Linked DNA regions of Homo sapiens: regions 2 and 3 are each reported to be linked to region 1. The links are microRNA targets in miRTarBase. Many come from high-throughput screens and were not tested one by one. Region 1 holds a microRNA gene; each other region holds the end of a gene's coding sequence.

The links. Region 1 holds the annotated microRNA hsa-miR-1233-3p (UGAGCCCUGUCCUCCCGCAG, at 5,292-5,311, opposite strand). A microRNA usually pairs through its seed, bases 2 to 8, with sites in the 3' UTR of a target mRNA and lowers its output. Matches are read on the target gene's strand: a 7mer-m8 pairs with bases 2 to 8, a 7mer-A1 pairs with bases 2 to 7 and ends in A, and an 8mer does both.
Region 2: the mRNA of KIF6 is a reported target of hsa-miR-1233-3p. Seed matches in the 3' UTR shown: 7mer-A1 at 4,240-4,246, 7mer-A1 at 4,209-4,215 and 7mer-m8 at 629-635.
Region 3: miRTarBase lists SGPP2 as a target of hsa-miR-1233-3p. Seed matches in the 3' UTR shown: 7mer-A1 at 6,015-6,021.

The regions. Positions count from the first base shown.
Region 1 is chr15:34,376,778-34,383,895 of GRCh38, forward strand. It overlaps MIR1233-1 (microRNA 1233-1), which reads right to left and starts at 5,373; the gene lies at 5,292-5,373. It overlaps GOLGA8A (golgin A8 family member A), which reads right to left. Exons shown (of 25, transcript NM_181077.5): 18 at 6,969-7,076; 19 at 6,664-6,751; 20 at 6,020-6,276; 21 at 5,609-5,752; 22 at 5,374-5,474; 23 at 5,191-5,291; 24 at 4,924-5,079; 25 at 2,291-4,836. The coding sequence ends at 4,634.
Region 2 is chr6:39,330,290-39,337,407 of GRCh38, forward strand. It overlaps KIF6 (kinesin family member 6), which reads right to left. Exons shown (of 23, transcript NM_145027.6): 23 at 1-6,259. The coding sequence ends at 6,243. The region is part of intron 1 of LOC105375047 (a long non-coding RNA gene); the gene reads left to right. Among named protein-coding and RNA genes, the nearest start is that of KCNK16, 11 kb to the left of the region's middle. RefSeq lists an enhancer at 5,874-5,953.
Region 3 is chr2:222,558,458-222,565,575 of GRCh38, reverse strand. SGPP2 (sphingosine-1-phosphate phosphatase 2) reads right to left here. Exons shown (of 5, transcript NM_152386.4): 5 at 2,955-7,118. The coding sequence ends at 6,678. Among named protein-coding and RNA genes, the nearest start is that of FARSB, 94 kb to the left of the region's middle.

The DNA.
Region 1 (7,118 bases):
TTACATGTATTGAGTGATGTCTTATGTTTCCCTGAAATGTATAAAACCCAGCTGTAGCCCAACTATCCTGGGCACATGTTCTCTAGATCTACTGCGGCTGTCTCATGGGCCATTGGTCACTCATATCTGGCTCAGAATAAATCTCTTCAAATATTTTATAGAGTTTGACCTTTTCATCAATAACCTCTATTCTTTTATCATTTGTTTTCCTCATCTTTTGTGTGTCCTGCAATGTCCTTGCTTCTTGCCACTCCTTCCCTGGTTGTTACTTCATTGTATTATCAGAGGAGTTTGAACCAGAGTGACTCCATCTTGAATAGGGGCTGGGTAAAATAAGGCTAACAACTACTGGGCTGCATTCCCAGGTGGATAGGTATTCTTGGTCACAGGATGAGATAGAAGGTCAGCATAAGGTACACGTCACAAAGACCTTGTTGACAAAAGGGTATGGTAAAGAAGATGGACAAAACCCACCAAAACCAAGGTGGCAACAAAAGTGACCTCTGGTTGTCCTCACTGCTCATTATACACTAATTACAATGGATTAGCATGCTAAAAGAGACACTCACCAGCACATGACAGTTTACAGATGCCATGGCAATGTCAGGAAGTTATCCTATATGGTCTAAAAACGGGAGGAACCCTCATTTCCACAAATTGCCCACCTCTTCCCCAGAAAACTTATAATCCACCCCTTGTTTAACATATAATCAAGAAGTAACTATAAGTATAATCAGTTGAGCAGCCCATGCTGCTGCTCTGTCTATGGAGTAGCCATTCTTCATTCCTTTACTTTCTTAATAAACTTGCTTTCACTTTAGTCTATGGACTCACCCTGAATTCTTGCTTGGGTGAGATCCAAAAGCCCTCTCTTGGGGTCTGGATCAGGATCCCTTTCTGGTAATGTCTTCTGGTTGAACCACGAAGGGACAATATTGAGGAAACCTCTGACCCAAAGAAAACAGCAATACCAATTGGCCGACTTTGAGTAAGAGGAGGGGTACATTTAACGTGGGTAAAGGATGGAATTGGGTTAGAGGCCCAACTTAGGAGGGTTAGAGTCCCTACTAAGACAGAGTTAAAGGCCTCCTTAATAAAAGGCAAGGACACTTGACCAAACTTGGGTTAGAGGCCCAACTTAGGAAGGTTAGAGCCCTTCCTAAGATTCAGGGGGTTACAGGTTAGAGGTCCCTCTCAGTAAAGTCCCTCTTGGTTAAAAATGGATTTGGAATTATGGGATGTTATCTGCTATTCTCTTTGGATTAATCTGCCTTGCACTGTTTGCTGATGGCTGTGGGTGACAGGATTAGGCATGTACAGGATCACCAGATGTGGGAGCATTTTTCTCCCTAAAGTGGGAAAGATGAGAGCTGATGGGACTGTTGGAAGAGCTCCCTTCATTACTGAAAAGCAGGTGCCTGAACTTTTGATTCAGCGTCGCTGCAATGGGTGGGTCTTTCTCTGGCCTCCCGGAGCTATGTACCCTGCCACAGACAATGCTTTTCTCCCCTTTTCTCCTTTCTCTTTTCTATCTTTTCTGTTACTCAGAGCCAACTGTCTGCTGTTTCATCTTGCCCAGAGACCACATGTTGAAACTCCTGGTTGGAAGATCATTGTACCCCACTTTTCTTTTTAGCATATAATCAAGAAGTAACTAAGTATAATCAGTTGAGCAGCTGATGCCGCTGCTTTGTCTTTGGAGTAGCCATTCTTTACTCCTTTACTTTTTTTTTTCTTTTTTGAGACGGAGTTTTTGCTTTTGTCACCCAGGCTGGAGTGCAGTGGCACTCTTGACTCATTGCAACCTCCACCTCCCAGGTTCAAGCAATTCTCCTGCCTCGGCCTCCTGAGTAGCTGGAATTACAGGCACCCACCACCACACCCAGCTAATTTTTGTATTTTTAGTAGAGACGGAGTTTCACTCTGTTGGCCAGGCTGGTCTCGAACTCCTGACCTCAGGTGATCTGCCCACCTCGGCCTCCCAAAGTGCTGGGATTACAGGCTTGAGCCACCGTGCTCCATGATAACTTTTCAGAAAACTTTTTTCTACTTTTTGCCACAACTTTTTTACATTTTTATCCGATAACTTTTTCACCCCAAAACTTTTTTAATCCCATACCTTTTTTATGTTGTGTTCTTTCAATAAACACTTGCATAGTTATACTACATTTTTGTAACAATGAAACAGATTATCTCATGCCAAGCATGCCCAGTATTTGCACAATATCAATACTTTTAATACTATAGTTTTCAAGACACGCAAAATAAAATTTTAAGGCAAAAACAGCACTTTGCAACAATTTAAAAATTTATTGCATTACAGTAGCATCACATCAGCAGTCAATAATGCCACTTTAAGCAAAAGTCTTTCAGTATTTCCGTTACACATTCTGTTAACAAGAACTCATACATTGGTAAAATTCATTCTAAGAAAACTTGGCAAATAACGCTTTGGCCTGGAATTGGCATTTCTTTCTCTACTTTTCCTTCCCACCATTTCTTCCTTTTAAACTACAGGATTTATATTTTAAAATGTTTTATTTCAGAACATTAAGATAGCAGTTACATTTTTTAATATTTATATTATTTTAAAATGACTCTTTAAGATACAGTTTTAAACCCATGGGCTAGAAATCATACGACTGTTAATTAGCCGCATTATTTGGTCTAACATTTTTTATCATTCTGAAACTGGATTTGTGTAATACATTGATAAATTCATACAATTTGGAAGAGTCAGTTGAAGTTACAAGGACCCAATATCTGCCCTCTTTCAGTGAATGCCGGCAAATCTGTTATTCCATTGGCAAAATCGTATTGCTGCTCTCCTGTTAATCTCACATTTATAAAAGGATCATGAGGCTGCCAAGTGCTAAAAATGGAGATGGTCTAGTAACTAGAAAACTCCCCACCCCAGGGAGCACACCTACATATCTCCCTACAACCTAATAATGTGATGTGTTTTGGAACACAGACATTAGAACTTCATGAAGTTTTAACTGTTGATTCTTTCCCAAGCATCATCAAGTTATGATTTAGGCAATGTATGATTGAAATGCATTCATTCATCATGCATAGGCACAATCACAGAAATATTGCACAAAGTATGTCCCTGACTGAAAATGAGAGGTACAAAAACGTATTTCACTCTTCGTAAAGAAGTTTGTGAGGAAATACAACTCTGCGATCGTATAGACATGTTTCCTGATAATACAGACATTCACAAACAGTAGATTGCACCACAGTGTGTAAACATTTTAAGTTGCATAAACTTCTCCTTGATTTTCAAAGATAATATAATACTGTCTACTAAAATTCCTTTTTGTTTCAACTAAGTACTCTCACATATATTAGTTTATAATAATGTTTGTTATTACTTTCTAAAGTGTTTTCCACTCAAGGAAAAGAAGTAAATTCCTATGTCAGAGTAACCGAGGTGGTTGAAGAATAGGTATTAGCCAGAGAGGTCTAGATAGTAAAATCAAACTTCAAGCCTCAAAGAAGCTCCATGAACAGAGAGGAATGCCAGGTGTCACACAGCTTTCCTTCACTCTAATTCATTCTTGACTAGAGCCTGTATGCCTGTTTCAGAGACATTTAAACTCTTAAAGGATTTCTTATGATCTTCACTAAATACATTAAGAAGAATGCCAACCAGCGCCCTTTCGTGTACTGGGACAGGTAGTCATGTGATTAAAACAGGGAACACGAACTCTGACTTTAAAATGTATTGTAGATACAAATGCTCTAAGCTAGGAAAGGTTTTTCACACCCACAGCCAATGATGGCAGCCTTTCATTCCTCGGAAATAAGCCCTTTTTAGGTCACTGAAAAAGAGTGCAACTGCTGCAGCTCACGATGCAATATCTTCATGAGCCCAGAGCACATACAAATCCAAAGGGAACTGCCACAGTACACTGCTCATTCTTGGCACCGGAACAGATGAAACACACTGTATCCTGCACATACCTGCCAGAGCAGGCCACTTTCCTCTTCTGTGAGATTTAGAAAGCTCCCCCAAAAGGTTATCACTCCCATCACCAATACACAGAAAATGGAGGAAAGGCTGTTTCCAGTTCTCGGCCTTTAAACAGCTCTAAATGTCAGTACTCACAGTGGCATATTACAAAGTAATAAACAGTGCACACTTGAGGGCAAACCGCATATTGAGCTATAGAAGAGCTCACTGTGATTAAGATGAGATCAAACATCATAGCAGAACATTAGCAAATTTTATCTGAATTCTGTAATGGACATCCATGCTGCAATAACATTAGAAAAGCACGGGAGCCTATTCCAAACCAGCGAGAACAGTTTTGTGCAAAGAGTGGGTCTTTGTGTGTTTGAACTCCCACCACGTAAGGGCAAACTCGATATGCATGCTAATGACCTACAATTATGAAATGAAAAAAGAAAAATGCTGAAGGATGCCAGAGTGAACATCAGTGAGAGCCACAGAGACCCACTCTCTTTTAACTTTTTACAAATAAACTTAAACTATAAATTAGAAACACAAATAATCATGAGTAGCTCTAACATTCAAATGAAGTAAATGAATTGTGTAGGAGATTAACCCCATAACTTTGTTTCGTTTTTAAAAATTTCTTGAGCAGCTCTTTGATGATGGTGGTGTTTATCTCCTTCTTCTCGGCAGCCAAGCCCAGCAAAAGCATGGCACACAGCAGTTGCTGCCCAAGCCTGGGTGCTCCTGGTGGTCCTGCATCTCACCAAGGAGCTGCACGACTGGCTGTGCAGTAGGGTTGTCCTGGGAAGAACCCTCCCTGGCTTCTCCTTGTGCAGGCTCCACGCTGTTGGTGAGGCTCGCCTCACAAAGATCTTTGGAGAGAGGGAGGCGGGGATCTGAGTGGAGTGCTAGCCGCCCCCCGCTCCTGCCTGCTCACCCCGCCTGGGGGCTCTACTCACCACCATGCTTGTCGGCAGCCCCGAGCTCCTGGGGGGCTGGGGCTCCTGGACTGGGTTCAGCAGCAGGGTTCCGGGCAGCGGCCAGGAATTTGCCGTGCCCCTCGCTGTAGCTGCCACAAGCCGCAACACCATCTCCTGCAGCTCCAGCAGCTTCACCTGAAGGGACGGGTGCTCAGCTGTCAGGCCGCTGCTGGCGCCCACCCTCATGCCCACCCCACCCACACCCCCACCCCACCCCCACCCCCACAGGGATGTTGCACACCCTACCTTCCTCTCCTCCTTGTCCTGGGCCAGCCTGATGATGGCCTCCTCCCGGTGACGCATCTTTGGCACTGTCCCCTGGCTCTGTTAGAAGGCGATGTACTTTCCTGCGGGAGGACAGGGCTCAGACGCTGGGGCCCCTCCCATAGCCCTGCAGCTCCCCCTGCCGTGCCCTGGCCTCCCACTCACTGATGGCATCTCTCTCTCCGGTACTGGATGAATCCAAGTTCCAGTTTCTCCACATGCTCCCTCAGGTCCGCCTTCTCCTCCAGGAGGTCCATAAGGCCGCTCTGGAGCCAAAATAATGGGGTCACATCTCAGCAGCGACCTGCCCCAGCCCTGCCCTTCTTGGCCCATGCTAGGACTCACTCCCCTCCAGCTTCTCCATGACTTCCTGCAGGGCCCGGAGGGTCTCCCCACTCACAGACTCGCCCCCAGTCCCTGAGGCTGGGACTGCTGCCTCTGGCTCCTTCTCGGCCGAGGTGAGCGTCTCCATCACCTGGCCCAGCTTCTCCTGCAGCTCCTTTACTTGCTGCTCCAACTGCAGTGCGCTCTTGTTCTCGTGCTTCTGGACAGAGAGAAGCAATCAGCAGCCACCCACTGCAGCTGGAGACCCCAGAACTTGGTGTCTGCCTCCCATGGCACCGGGAAGGGTGGAGCCAAGTTAGAAAAATACTCTCCTCTCTCCCACAGCCACCAGAGCAAAGCTCTGGCTCACAGGTGCCTTTGGAAGTAATATTTCATGTGAGGGCTACACTGCCCCATTTTACAGGTGGGGAAACAAAGGCCTGGAGGGCTAGGGAGGAGGGCAGGCTCCCCAGGTGGGGCAACCCACCAGCTCCTCCAAGTCGCTCTGTGGCTCGGCCAGCTGCTGAAGCCTCTTCTCCCGTTCCCGAAGCCTCTCCTGCTGCTCCTGAAGCCTCTCCTCCTGCTCGCGAAGCCTCTCCTTTTGCCCACGGTTCAGGAGACTGATGCACTGATTGTTTTCCACCTGAGCCTGGAGCTCTCCTGCCACTCTCTCCAGCTCCTTCCTCAGGTCTTGCAGCTCCACCTCAGAGGACACTGCTGGGGCATCCGGGGGCAGTGGCTCAGCTGAGAAAGGAAGCAGATCATAAGGGCCTCTGGATTCTCAAAACAAAAATCAAAACAGAAAAAACAACAAAACACCCTCCTGTTGGCGCACAGCTCCTCTCAGGCTCCCAAACTTGGCTTCACTGCTAACGATCCCTCGCACCCGGATGGTAGCCAGTCTTCCAAACCACTTTCAGATAGAGAGCACTGCGGGTGGCTGACAACGGGCCCTCTTTGCTCATGGGGACACTGAGGCTCAGGGAGATGACAAGACTTGTCTCCTGGCACAGACCTCTTTCCCTCTGCCTCAAAGCCCTGCCATCCACCCACCTCCCTGGGGCACTCTAAGCCACCCCCACAGCCCTCTGATGCCAGTCCTGCTCCCAGGTCATGCCAGCCCCATCTTACCCATCTGGTTTTTGAGTCTGGACAAGCTCCTCTCCAGCTCCTCTACCCGATGCGTATCATGCTTCTTCTCCTCCTTCAATGTGCAAACCTGCCCAAAGCACAGGGGGAAAGGGCCCTGGAGAGAGGGGCTGGTGGCTGGACAGGCTCCCATCTCCCTCTCTGCCCCCACCTCCACAAAGCCCAGACCCAGGACCACCTCTGGCTGCACTATTCCCATTTTAAAGAGGCCCAGAAAGATCCAGTGACCTATCTTAAGTTGTTGGTGGGGGGGGGGTGGGGCGGGAGGCTGAAGGGTCAGATCTCACCTCCTGCGACATTTTCCTCATCCTCTGCTGCCACTGGGCCCTCTCTCCTTTTATTTGTTCAGCATATTGATCTCTCTCCAGCTGGACTTCTTTAAGCGACTCCTTCAACTGCAAGAATGGCCACACAAGTTAGGAAGGGCCGTCACTGGT
Region 2 (7,118 bases), not on the chromosome of region 1:
ACTGAGACCCACATGAGGCCTGGACTATGTTAGGGGTGGCCTGCATGGATGACGTTGTTGGTCATGGCTGGTCCCAGCACCAGAGGGAGACTTAGAAAGTTTTTAGCAAAGCATGTCAAAGCACAGGTTACCCCCAAAACATGGGGCTGAAGGCATGGGGACTGCTTGCCTCAGTCTAAAGACAGTGATGGAAAAGACAAACCCAGGAGATGTTTCGGAGAAAAGAAAACAACAACATCCCACACCTGGGGCCAGAAGGGGAGGGGTGCTGGCCTGGGGAGGGGCTGCCCTCCTGAGATCAGGAGCTGAGTGAATGGAGAGGGAAGAGTACCAGCTGGCATGCTGCTTGCTCTTTGCTGAGTTCCCTCTCAGTGTGGGTGAAACTGGCTCAGCCCTGCTGGCTGGCACGAGGCCATGGAAAACCCAAATAAAGCAGTTAACTCTGAAAAGGTTGCTGCTTCCTCCTATTCCTTGGGAGATGCATTCAGGGCTACACTCAGAGGCCACTTTTCGCAAGGTGAGGAGGAGCTTGTATTCAAGGAAACACTGCTTTTTCCTCCCACATTTGACACATATGTTTTCAACATCCAACATTCACAGCCAACCTCTCTACACCTGCTCTGCCTCGGAGCCCTGGCAGTCCCTGGACACGTGTTATGGAAGGAACACTGTCTCCCCCACATGCTCACATGGCCCAAATCCCCACAAGTCCCCTTTTTGCCAAGCTCCACGTCCTTTGCCTCTTCCCATCACCCAATACCCAACCTGCCATCATTGTCCTAAGCTTCCCTTCCCTGCTTCTCTCTTTGCACCTTGCCGGGTTCTCACACTCCCACCCACCTTGATAGTGAGTCCAAGCCCATCCTACCCCACCCCCAACTCCTTCTTCTTTTTCTGAGACAGGGTCTTGCTCTGTCATCCAGGCTGGAGTGCAGTGGTGTGATCACAGCTCACTGCAGCCTTAACCTCCTGGGTTCAAGGATCCTCCCACCTCAGCCTCCCGAGTAGCTGAGACTACAGGCGCTTGCTACCATGCCCAGCTAACCCCAACTCCTTCTTAATCAGATTGTCTTGCTTACTTGTTTATTGTCCCTCTCTTTTTTTTTTTTTCAGAGAAGGAGTCTCGCTCTTGTTGCCCAGGTTGGAGTGCAGTGGCACGATCTCAGCTCACTGCAAACTCTGCCTCCAGGGTTCAAGTGATTGTCCTGCCTCAGCCTCCAGAGTAGCTGGGATTACAGGTGCGCACCACCACACCCAGCTAATTTTTGTATTTTTAGTAGCGATGGGGTTTCGCCATGTTGGCCAGGTTGGTCTCAAACTCCTGACCTCGTGATCCGCCAGCCTCAGTCTCCCAAAGTGTTGGGATTACAGGCGTGAGCCACCATGCCTGGCTTGTCCCTCTCCTTCGTTAGAAGGTTCCAAGAATGCTGGCACTTTCTCTGTCTCTGTCACCTCTGACTCCTCAGAACTTAGCACAATGGATGGCACATCCTTGTCAAAACAATGACCAGATGAATGAGACATGCTTATGTTTAAGGAATTACAAGGAGCATTTTTTCTGCCTAGATTTGAAACACACACCCATTGCATTTTAAAAAATGTTTCTGTCTATTTACTCTATCAACTGTGCCATGCCTGGGGCTGTTTCTATTTGTTTTTTCTTTTTTTTTTTTTTGAGACAGAGTTTCACTCTTGTTGCCCAAGCTGGAGTGCAATGGCACAATTTCGGCTCACTGTAACCTCTGCCTCCTGGGCTCAAGCAATTCTCCTGCCTCAGCCTCTGAGTAGCTGGGATTACAGGTACGCAACACCATGCCCGGCTATTTTTTGTATTTTTAGTAGAGACGGGGTTTCCCCATGTTGAACAGGCTGTTCTTGAACTCCTGACCTCAGGTGATCCTCCTGCCTCGGCCTCCCAAAGTGCTGGGATTATAGGAGTGAGCCACCACACCCGGCCTCTATTTCTATTGATGGTTTTTTCTCCTCTCATGGCCCATATTTTCCTGCTTCTTTGCATGCCTGATTATTTTTTAATGGACACCAGACATTGTGGATTCTATATTGTTGGATGCTGGTTTCTTTTTGGTTTGTTTTTCATATTCCTTTAGATATTTTGAAGCTTTGTTTTGGGACTCATTGAAGTTACTTGGAAACTTACTGGAAACAATTTGACTCCTTTGGGGCTGGCTTTTTAAGCTTTGTTAGGTGGGACCAGAGCAATCTATCATCTAGGACTAATTTGGCCCCACTTCTGAGGCAGTACCTTATGTGTCTCTATACAATGACTGTTTTGGGAGGTTTCTCCACTCTGGCTGTTGGAAACATGAACTCTTCCCAACACAGTGTTATCTCAGGAAATTATTCCACCTGCTTCCTCCTGGTGGTTCTTTCCCCTGCCTTGGGTAATTTCTTCACATGCAGATGTTGATCGGTAGTTAGCTGAAGACTCAAGGGTAACCCTCTGAAGATCTCCAGAGCATGCTCTCTCTCTTTCTCTCTCTTTTTTCTCCTCTCTCTCTCCTTCTCTCTCTCTCATCCCTGGGACTCTGCCTTGCAAATTTAAGCCACTTTGTCCTCCCTGGATTCCCAGCTCCATTTCCTCAACTCAGGGAAACCACTGGGCTCTACCTGGTTCCCCCTTCCTGGGCTGCAGCCTGAAAACTCACTGCAGGCAGTAAGTTGGAGCAATCATAGGGCTCCCCTCACTTGTTTCCCTTCTCTTGCGGATCAATCATACCCTATATTGCTTGTTATCCAATGGCTGAAAACCATTGGTTTGTATAGAGGATTTTGTCTCATTTTTAGTCATTTAAAGCAGGAGGGTAAATCAGGTCCTTGTTGCTTCATCATGGCTGTAGGTGGTGGTCCTGCTTTTCCATATACAGGATGCTCTCAGTGCCTTTCCACAGGCTGCATGGAGAGACAATGAACTCTGCACTGAGAAATCCTAGATCCAGTCATATACTGTCTCTGGGTTCCAATTTCTGTGCCAGTCTGCTATTGCTACAATTAATGCTATATAACAAACCACTCTAAACCTCAGTGGTTTATGACAAGCAGCATATATTCTCATGCCAATAGGTCTTTGGGTGAGCCATAGTTCAGCTGATCTGGGCTGGGCTTGCCTGGGAGGCTCTGCTCCAGGCTGTAGACTGGGCTCAGGTCTGCTCTCTGGATGTTCCAGGCTGAAGGGGCAGCAGCTACCCATGGCATGTTCATCCCAAGAGAGATCACTGGAGCAAGAGGCAAGCTCAACCATGAGAGCACAATTCAAGCCTCTGCCTGGATCAGGTTTGCCAACACCACATTAGTCAAAGTGGGCCATGACAAAGCTTTGGATGTGTAATTCTATACTGGTGGTGAAGAATTAAAATGATGTATTCAGTATACCACAATTTCTCTATCTGCTTTCTAAAACTCCTTTTTAGCAAGATCTGGGCAAGCTACATTTTAACTTCCCTCCTCCAACCTCCGTCCACCCTACTTCTTGTCAAGGGATTGGTAGAGCCAGTTGAATTCTAGCAGGGACTGGGCTGGAGTCACTGGCTAGGCTGCTTTCCAGAAAATGTTTTTGAAAATCCCACATTTTGGCCTAGAGTGAACTCAGATACTTCTTGTCATCCGTGGCTCCACTGATCCCAGGTGGATTGCTGGAAAGTCTTTTCAAAACATTGCATCAATTTCTCCCATTTGCAGAGGCCAGTGAACTCTGGGAAGGTGCACTGCTGTCAAGCATGTGTCCATATCAAAGGCTGGGCTTCCATTAGGGGATGTTCGGAGCAAAAGGCCCCTTGGCCAGTTGCTGCACACACTTTGCATATGCTCTGGACACCAGTGGCCCCAGATCCCATGTTGTGTGTTTTTCTGTCTTCATTTCCTTTCCTGTCTTAGTGATTGCCCCAGGAGGCTGGTTCACACCCCGCATGGGGCCATGCCACACATCTCTGTCAGTAAGGCCTTTGGATCCAGGAGATGATGTCTCAGTGGGAGATCTAATGTTGAAAGACTCTGGCAGGGTATGTGGCTCATGCCTGCAATCCCAGCACTTTGGGAGGCCAAGGCGGGAGCATCGCTTAAGGCCAGGAATTTGAGACCATCCTGAGCCACACAGTGAGACCCTGTCTCTACAAAAAATTTAAAACGAGCTAGGTGTGGTGGTGCATGCCTGTAGTTCCAGCTACTTTGGAGGCTGAGGTGAGAGGATCGCTTGAGCCCAGGAGTTGGAGGCTGAGTATGGCTTGAGCCCAGGAGTTGGAGGCTGACTAGTGAGGTATGGTCGCACCACTGCACCCCAGCCTGGCTGACAGAGACCCCCCCCATCTCAAAAAATAAATAAAAGAAAGTAAAAATAAAAGAAAATAAAAGTTAGTAGACTCTACCCAGCTCTAGAGGGCTGAGGGCACTAAGGCATGCCAAGAATACTGCTGCTGCTACATAGGGGACTGGGGCAAATGCCATGCCATCTTCAGGGCTCTTGAGAGTGTGTGTGTGTATGTGTGTGTGTGTGTGCAGTTACATGTGTGTTCCATGGACTCTTGGGGAGGCTTCTAGAATCAGAATTTGGTCTTCCTCTGGTTCTACAGACTTTACAGAGGGCTTACTATGTTCCATTGAACTGTGAGGGCCAGGAGTGGACCAGAGATGCTGGCCCCTGTCCCGATGGGATTCAGTCAGAGCCTGGGGGAAGTCAGAGTGACACCAGCCTGAGAAACACATCTGGGTTCTGGCTCGTCTACTCATGAACTGAAGGACCGTTTACTGAACAGCGACTCTGTGCTTGGGACACAGCAATGAGCAAGACAAACAGGTCCCTGTTGCATTGGAGCTCTTAGTATTATGGGGGGTTGCAGGTATTTCAAAAATAGGCAAGTTCGGAAGGATAACATGTCAGATAGTGATGCAGAAAAAATGGTAATGGGATAGGGGATAACTAGGGGGTGACTCGAGATGGAGTGGTCAGGGGAAGCCCCCTGAAGAGGGGACATTTGTCAGTGGCATAGAACAGCAAGCTGAATCTCCCCTTCACTCTGGCCTTCTAATTATATAAAATAGGGGTGTGGATTAGAGGAGCTCGATGGGCCTGCCTAGCTTAGAAATGTAATGGTTTAATCTTCTCCTGCATGATCCTGTTACCCAGTCCTAAAAAACGAAAAAGAAAATCAAGCCAATTATACTATATTACCACTCTGCTCCCCTCCAGGGTCATCAGGTCCTGTATTTATAGGACAGAGACACCAGGAGCAGTGGACCAGCACTTTTATCCAGTTAGCTTCATTTCCAGGTGCCACTCCTGCTCACCCTCCGCTGCCCCTCCCTGGCTGCAGCTGGGTTGGAACCCCCTGGCCCAGGGGGCAGTTCTTCAAGAACCTCCTTGAGGGCTGCCCACCTTCCCTTGGATCTGTCATGGAGAGGGCCCATGGAGACAAGACCCCCAGGCAGCTATGTTTTTCCCTGTGGAAGTGGGGAGTGTCAGCCCAAATCCTCCCAAGTGGCTGGGTGAAGGTTGTGAGGCCCAAGGTACCCACACTGCCCTCTCTCAAGCTCTCAGCAGAGCCCCTGGGAGCTGCCCACTGTTCTCTGGGTGCTATGATGTCCTTAGACCCTGCAGGGCAGATGGCTCCCTGGAGACACAGCTGTTCAGGCACTGCCTCCAGGTCATCCTGGCCAAGAGGCTGATGGTGAAAGATGTGGTCTGGGAGATCAGGATTGGCCTTCAGGATGCCCTGCATTCCACTGCCTTGCCTGTGGCTGGGACATCCTGCCTGGACCTGTCATGGCCATTTCTGGGCTTCCAAACCAGAGCACGGGCCAAGGGAGAGAGCTGGCAAATCGTTAAAAATAAAAATATTCCCCCCACATTCCACTGGTGTGAGCATCCTCTGACATTATATTTTGATGGTGCTATTTCACATTCTCAAAAGCTTATAAAGATCTACACAAAACGTCACTACAACAGTGAGCTGAAGCCTTCACCCTGCCCCTAGCACTCTGGCCTTGCCTGGCCCTGCCAGCAGCTCCAGCAACCACAGGAAGGATGTTGTGGTCAGCCCCAGCCCCAGCCTCTCGGTGGCCTCCAGGTCAGCATCCTTAAAGAAACACAGTCCCCTCCATGGGAATCAAAGTCACTAGTTGCTCCCAGCAGCCCATAGTTCACTTCTGAAGCCAGAGCAAGTGAGGGGCGCTGCCTTCATCTGTGCTTCATTCTTGCTGGCATAATTCATGGATGGATATTTCCTGGAAATTCAATTGCTTCCCAAACCTGAAAGGGAGACAGGATGCTTTTGGTTAGGCTGTGCATGCAGACACTGACTTTTCCCAGGATTGAATCGGGGGGAGGGGAGGCCACCAGCCACTCCCCCTGGGTCTTGGGCACTGCATCTGTGTCTTGCCTCCCAGGAGCTGCATTTATACCCCAAGCTCTGAAGGAAGAGGCCCCCTTTGCCCTTTGCAGAAGCTCCATCTCCCTAGGCTGAGACTGACGCCTGTTTTCCTACCCCACCGTTTTCTTTCCTTTTCTTTCTTTCTTTTTTTTGATGGAGTCTCGCTCTGTCACCGAGGCTGGAGTCTTGTCTTTTCCTTCCTTCCTTTCTTCTGTCCTTCCTTCCCTTCCTTCCCTTTCTTCCCTTTCTTCCCTTTCTCTTCTTTCTTTCTTTTTCTTTCTCTTTCTTCTCTTTCATTCTTTCTCTCTTTCTCTCCCCTTCTTTCCTTCCTTTCTTCCCTCCCTCCCTCCCTTCCTTCCTTTCTTTTCCTTCCTTCCTTTTTCTTTCTTTCTTTCTTTCTCTTTCCTTTCTTTCCTTCTTTCCTTTCTTTCTTCTTTCTTCTCTTTCTTTCTTTCTTTCCTCCTTCCTTCCTTCCTTTCTCTTTCTTTTCTTTCTTTCCTTCCTTCTTTCTTTCTTTCTTTCTTTCTTTCTTTCTTTCTTTCTTTCTTTCTTTCTTTCTTTCTTTCTTTTTCTTTCTTTTCTTTCCCTCCCTCCCTCCAGCCTCCCCTCCCTTCCCCTCTTCCTTCCTTCCTTCCTTCTTTCTTTTTCTTTCTTTTCTTTCTGGACGGAGTCTTGCTCTGTTACCCAGGCTGGAGTGCAGTGGCACAATCTCGGCTCACTGCAACCTCTGCCTCCGGG
Region 3 (7,118 bases), not on the chromosome of region 1:
CCTGATAGCAAAAGAAATGTTCTGATTTCCACATGGCACAGCTTTTTGTCAGGAATAAAATATGCCTGTCCCTACAATAACCAACTACTTAGGGCTGACAAGAAACCAGTTGTGACACACGGAATAAACAGTCACATTTCGTGCTGGAAAGGTCAGAGAAAAAGCCCCAGTGGAGATAGGTGGGATTAGAGATTTTTTGGCTGTGTGTCTTGGGCAGAACATTTAAACAAGGAGCACTTGGGTGACGTTGGGGCAGATGAGACAAGAGAGCCAGACAGAGAGGTGCCCCTTAAGCAAATCATGTAGGTGAGATGACTTGTGTAAAACACTAGGCACAACACCTGTCATGCAGAGGCCCGGACTGGGGTTTGTATTGAGGCATGGTGGAAATCTCTCTTTGATCTTCAGGATACTTCAGCGTCTTTTTATTAGTGGCCAGTTAGGAAGGCTAAAATGATCTGTGTTTAGTGTGCACTGTGCATAATTGGCCCCACTCACAGTGGCACCCATCAGGTTTCCACGTGACAGAGACATTGCAGACTGGAAGCCCAAGAGGCTTCACTCCTATCTGCACTCATGGATACAGGTAGATTATAAGACTCTTGCAGGCATGGGCATTAAGGCAGGACCCACTTTTCACCCTGGCTCACCCCTAATGATCTGAGGCCATCTTTGTGTATATTAAAGAGGCATTGACATTTGAACACCTGCATTGGGCAGAATCTGGCTTGCCATACAGAGAGCAAGGCCAGCAGATGTGTTGAGTGCGTGTGTTAAAGAAGCATTACAGTGGAACTCCTAGCTACATCCTTACTTTTCTTGGTTTTTTTGCATGCCATATAGACAGGCTTGGAAAAAGAAGAATTATTTTTGGCTTTGTATAGCTCCCTGTCTCACGTGGCTACAGTTTTAAGAATTTAGCATTCTCTTCATGGCCTACATTTAACTCTGATTCTTCTTAATGTGCATTCTGTAAATATCCAAGTCTGTACTACAGGTGTGTCTCATTTTAAGAAAACAATGGATGCATGGTGTGCACAGAGTCACCCATTAAAGCCTTATGTTCACAGAAATGAAGAATCCAAATTTTAACTGGAATTCTAATGGCAAACCCATACGTGCAGTTAAAATTCAAGTTTAAAAAAATCAAAACACAAGCAGCTTCGAGGAAAAAACATCTCTTGTCTCAAATGAGATATGTGTATGTTGCTATTCCACTTGGCTCTTGGGTAGCTTCTTACTAGAGGATGAGGGCTTCATTCACAATCATTAAAGAAAGACTTGGAGCATTTTGAAGCATTTTGAAGTTCTCTGAAGAGCCAGGATCACGGTAAAATATTTTGAAAATGAAGTTTCACATGACTAGTTCAGGGAACTGAGCAAAGAGAAGACGGGGGAAGGGAGTGGGCATGAAGGACACAGAAGGAGGTCCCAGCTGTTGGTCATGTCTGCCAAGAGAGGAACAAGAAGGATGGGAATGACGCTGTGCGTGCAGAGATGGCAGACGGGGAAGGTGCTCGGGCTGACTGGTGAGTACAGTTAACCCTTGGACAAGATGGGTTTGAACTGTACACATTCAGTGGTATGTGGATTTTCTCCTGCCTCTGCCACCCCTGACACAGTAAGAACAACCCCTCCTCTTCCCTCTCTTCCTCCTCCTCAGCCTCCTCAACATGAAGATGAGGATGAAGACTTTTGCGATGATCCCCTTCCACTTAATGAAGGGTAAATGTATTTTCCTTACAATTTTCTTAACATTTTCTTTTCTCCAGTTTACTTTATTGTAAGAATACAATATATAATGCCTATAACATAAGATATGTGGTAATCTACTGATTGTGCTATCAGAAAGGCTTCCCATTGACAGCAGACTATTAGTAGTTAAGTTTTGGGGGAGTCATAAGTTATATGCATTTTTACTGCATAGGAGGTTGGCACCCCTGAGCTCCGAGTTGTTCAAGGGGCAACTGTATTTGAATGAGGAGTGATGAAAGGAGTCTGTGAAGTCACCTCTGGACGTCACCCCCTCTGGGAGGGCCTTCTCACACTTCTTGTTCGTGTGGTTTGATTTTGCGGTGTCACAGCCCTATGCTCATCCTTTATTTCACCACCACCACCACCACTGTTATTCTTACGATCACCAACGTGGTCTGGTTTTTTTTCTTGTAAGAGCTGGAGGTGTTTGGGAAGTGCCTCAGACACGCTGTTCTCTAGCCATGGAGTACCATCTCCTACCTACTTCCCGTCACATTCCCTGTGCAAACCCCATCTGTTCTCTAAACCTCGCTCATGCAGTCTACCCCTCCTCCCAGTTCCCATGTCGTTGTTTTCTCTTCCCTACAGCCTTAACCATTTGGCTCCTGAATTGTAATTCTCTGCCCCTGTGTCTTCTCTGTCCTGCGAAAACTGCACAGGATAGGTTGGAGCTTTACATCTCATATGTCCTGCTCAAAGTACAAATAGAGTCCTAGGTCTGCCCTTGCAAATAAGGGGCAGTGTCAACTGTATGTACCATCTCAAATAGCAAATTTGGGATGCTTAAAGGCAGACCACATCATTGCAGTGATACACTGTGAATTTGAATGACGGTTATGTTTATTTGGTTCAGCAGATAGAGAACGCATCTCTAAAAACCTTTTACTTACCTTAACTAGCAAAACTTACAACATTTACCTTTCAAAACATAGTGACATTTAACTCCATATAAAGTAAAAGGAGGTTCTTTAGTATCATGGAGTAGAGGAGGGGATTTAAGGATGCCAACATGCCACTTCTTTCTTGTTACCACACCTGTGGGTCCTCCAAGGCTCTCCAACATTTGCACATGATTGGATTATGACAAGAACAGAGAATTATGTAGCCTGCCTCTTATTTTTGTCCCCTTTTCAACTCAGGTCCAATGAATTCAGAGAAAAAGATCTACGTTAAGAAAAAAATGCAAGGAAACAGAACACTGGCTTTTAAAGCATTTAATAAGTCAAAATCAAATAAAAGTGATTTTTAAAAAGAATAAATTTACATACAGTACATAAGCAAGACAGCTGAAGGTTTCTAAAATAGAAACCTGGTGCATATGGCCCCAAAACACCACATGCTTTGATTACACTCAGGAAGCATGAGTTGCCTATTTGGGTGAGAAAATCCCATGTTACAGTGCGATCACTGGGCACGTTTTGGAGTAATTCCAGCCACTGCTATGTAAGTGTTTTTAATTCAGGGGTGTCTTCTACGTTTTCATCTTCTGAATATCTTGTGACGGTGCAGGTTTGAGCAAAACTGGCATGAAATGAGAGCTGTTTTAGATGAAGATTGCAAGATGGATGGCTTGGCCCACAGTGGCAGTGGGTTGGGGGTGGAATGTGGACAATTAGGAAAAAGGCATGTCATTCTATCTGGCTCCTGGAGAGGCAGATAGTCCTGGGGGCTTTGGTGTCACAGTTCCCAAAAGCAAGGTTGGCCAGACCATAGGCTTACATTGTGGTGAGCTTGCCTTTTAAATTAATCTCCAAGATGCCAGATCGAGAGGGATGGTGGACCTAGACTGAAGCCAAACCAGTAGGGGGCTCTCTTTCCCCAGAGAGAAACTCCAAATGTCTTGAAAGGAGCCTGAACCATACCCTTTGAAGGGGCAAGCAATGGTCTGAGACAGAGAGAGGATTTAACAGAGCAAAGTGCTGTGTGAGAAATGAATGGAAGAGGGCTAGCAAGACAAGGGTGTGAATCAGGTAATGCCTTTTTCACCCCGATGAATTTTTGTCTGATTCTCACCACAGAGCAGGAGTGCTCAGAAACTGAGGTTGGCGTCACCAATATACACTTTTCATTCTCCAGTTGCAGTAATCAAATACTTTAAAAAGTGACCAACCATGACAAATCCTTGGCTCATTCTTTAATGTGCTGTGGCTGATATATTCATCCTCAGCCCAAATTAGTTAAGTACAGCCTTAAATATATCAATATAGCTGATCGGCCTTCCTATTGTTGGGACTTAAAACTAGAGACAGCAGTAAAAATTATGTATATGATATATATATATATATAAAATGATATATATATATCATATATATGAGAGGCCAGCACCCACTCTGTGACAATGATCACAATCCCTCTTTTTAAAAAATACAAGTGGGAAAAGCTGATCCTTTTGTCAGCTGGCTTCAGACAAGTCAACCACAATTATTTGGTGTAAATATCCAGTGTTGCGAACTCTGGCTGGGCAGCTGTGTGGATGAAAATACAGAAAAGTGCCGCATCCGGCTGACAGCCACTGCTCTGCAGGGGCAGATGAAGGCTGGGAGTACCTGTAAGCTAAGGCCCTTCCCCTGAGTTGTGCTGCAAATACTGGGCAGAGTTTGATGTAAAAGCAGTCAAACGGCAGGTCATCTTGATCTTTGCCTTCTAACTATAATAAATATGAGAAGAATTTTAAGTAAAAACAGGATGTTTTGCTAAAAATTCTTTTTTTTTTTTTTTGAGAGAGTCTCGCTCTGTCGCCCAGGCTGGAGTGCAGTGGCGCAATCTCGGCTCACTGCAAGCTCCGCTCACCGGGTTCACGCCATTCTCCTGCCTCAGCCTCCTGAGTAGCTGGGACTACAGGCGCCCTCCACCACGTCCGGCTAATTTTTTTGTATTTTCAGTAGAGACGGGGTACCGTGTTAGCCAGGATGGTCTCGATCTCCTGACCTCGTGGTCCGCCCACCTCGGCCTCCCAAAGTGCTGGGATTACAGGCATGAGCCACCGCACCCGGCCTAAAAATTCTTGAGAAATTGGAATGCTAAGTTACATACTAAATATCATCCCAACAGTAAGGCCGTAGAACATATTTGAAATCAAGAAAAATGTGATTTTTCGGTTTTAACACGTTAAGAGCCTCTGTAACTTTTAAGGAAGCTATTTTTTTTTCTAGAGTATGCACATGGTGATGATGTGTTGGGTTGATAAAGCACTGGCTCAGTCCTACAGGCACTAAACTTCAATGGATACTTTGTTAACTATAGTTACACTAACTTTAAAGAAAGTTCTTGATACCTGTTCTTTATTCTTAGGAACTGAAGAGGAGGGAACTCCGGTGTTTGCATAATCATCGCCTTCCCATGTTAAGAGGACTCACCCTAGTAGGCTTAATGGGTTTTGTATTTGGTTGGCTTGTTTTCCCAAGAGACACTAAAGTTGTTCTTGCATTAATTCCCCTTAAAATTGCCAAGAGATAAGAGGTGGGAAGACAAAAAGGGCGCCTGATTCTATTCAGTAGATGAGAAAATAGATTTACAGAAGGTAACTGTGAAATTGGAGGAGTAATGTCAGGGAGGCCTTGTCAGGACAGGCAATGTCAAGGAAGCCTATCCCTTCTTTGTCAGACTCCAGAAAGGATTGAGTTCATCTGTTCTTCACAGATCCACTTTCCTAGGCAGATGCCAGTGCCTTCCAGGTTTGTATGAAAGCAAAAAACTGCTGACGATGGGCAGAGGGCCTGTCCCAAACCACTAGGAAGCAGGAGAGGGCAGGAATCTCAGTGAATCCCAGATGTATCCACCTGTGCTGAAGGCTAACCCCCAACCTGTTTGGTGATGTGTGAGCAGCCAGTTGGTTTCATGGGTCAGAAGAGTGTGGTAATGGTACCTGGAATCCTGCAAAATGCATGGAAACAAGGAAGAGCAGATCCTTATTCCAACATGAACAGCAGGACTTATAAGGAAAGCAGGCTTTTCCCCATGACCTCACAGCTCTGCCTCCACCTTTCATCTCTTCACAGTGAGCTTTCTTTCAGAGTGATCTTACCACCCAACCAGGCACAGTCTAATTTGATCATAACAAGGAGGAGGCCGGGCACAGTGGCTCATGCCTATAATCCCAGCACTTTGGGAGGCTGAGGTGGGTGGATCACTTAAGCCCAGGAGTTTCAGACGTACCTGGGCAACATGGAGAAACCCTGTCTCTACAAAAATTAGCTGGGCACATGGTGGTCTATGCTTACAGTCCCAGCTACTCAGTTGGCTCAGGCAGGAGGATTGCTTGAGCCCGGGAGGCAGAGTTTGCAGTGAGCTGAGATTGTGCCACTGTAATACAGCCTGGGAAACAGAGCAAGATCCTGTCTCAAACAAAACAAAACAAAAAATCACCAAATAAACGATAAGGAAGTCACCCTGTCCAAGGAATGCCGTTTCATATGGTGCCACCCCTTCTCCTAGACCAAAGTTCCCATTTTAGAAATAACTCCATGCTAGGCAAGGTTGTAACGGAAAAGAAAGGCTCTACCTCCAGCCTCCCAGATCACCCCATCTCTACTGGCTCTCCAGAACCCAGTGGGGCTCATAGCTATTCCTAAGCCAGGCCACAATTCCTGCCAGCCCATGACTAGATCCAAAGCCCGTGCAACAGCGAGAGGAGCAGGGGCCGGGCGGGGGGGGGGGGGGCGCGGTGTGTGCCTTTAAAGATCCGGATTATGGTCTTTAGCCTGGGTTCAACTGTAGCACAACCAACCACCACGGACGACCAATGACCGCTATGAGACAGTTCTTCCTTTCACACAGCAGCATCATTTATCTGGTAGTAGCAAGACAGCCGTATGACTTTTTGTTGTTGTTAAAGAAAAATAAGTTGTCAAGATTTGCCTACCAATAACTTTCCTATGTCTTGGCTTTCATGTCCAGTGGGCTAGTTTCCAACTGTTTGAGACTCAGGGTAATCCCAGAAACCTGTGAAGCATCGGCACAAAGGTTGTAGCGCAGATGCCAACAGATGTGTAGGTAACAAACTTGTAAGGCACTTCAATCTCCAGTCTCCGCCTGGCCTCCTTGTTCCTGGTGACCACCTTGAACCATGAGTATAATACTTGCAGTGAGAGATTTTGTACAAGCTGACGAACCAAGAGGATCAACACAATTCCCACTGCAAATTTGGTCAGACCCAAAACTAACATGTAGGTGGTGAGTGGTGGGATGTTCTGAATAACAGGGAGAGATTCAGCGGGCTTGGATACAAGCTGGAAGAAATGGTTGATCCAGAATCCTATGGTCACTCCAGCCCCGGCAGCCAGAATGGTGGTGGTGTCCGCCCGGGTTGGGCTGTAGTAATCAGAAACAGGGTAATTGTAACACAGGAAGAATGGCACAACTAT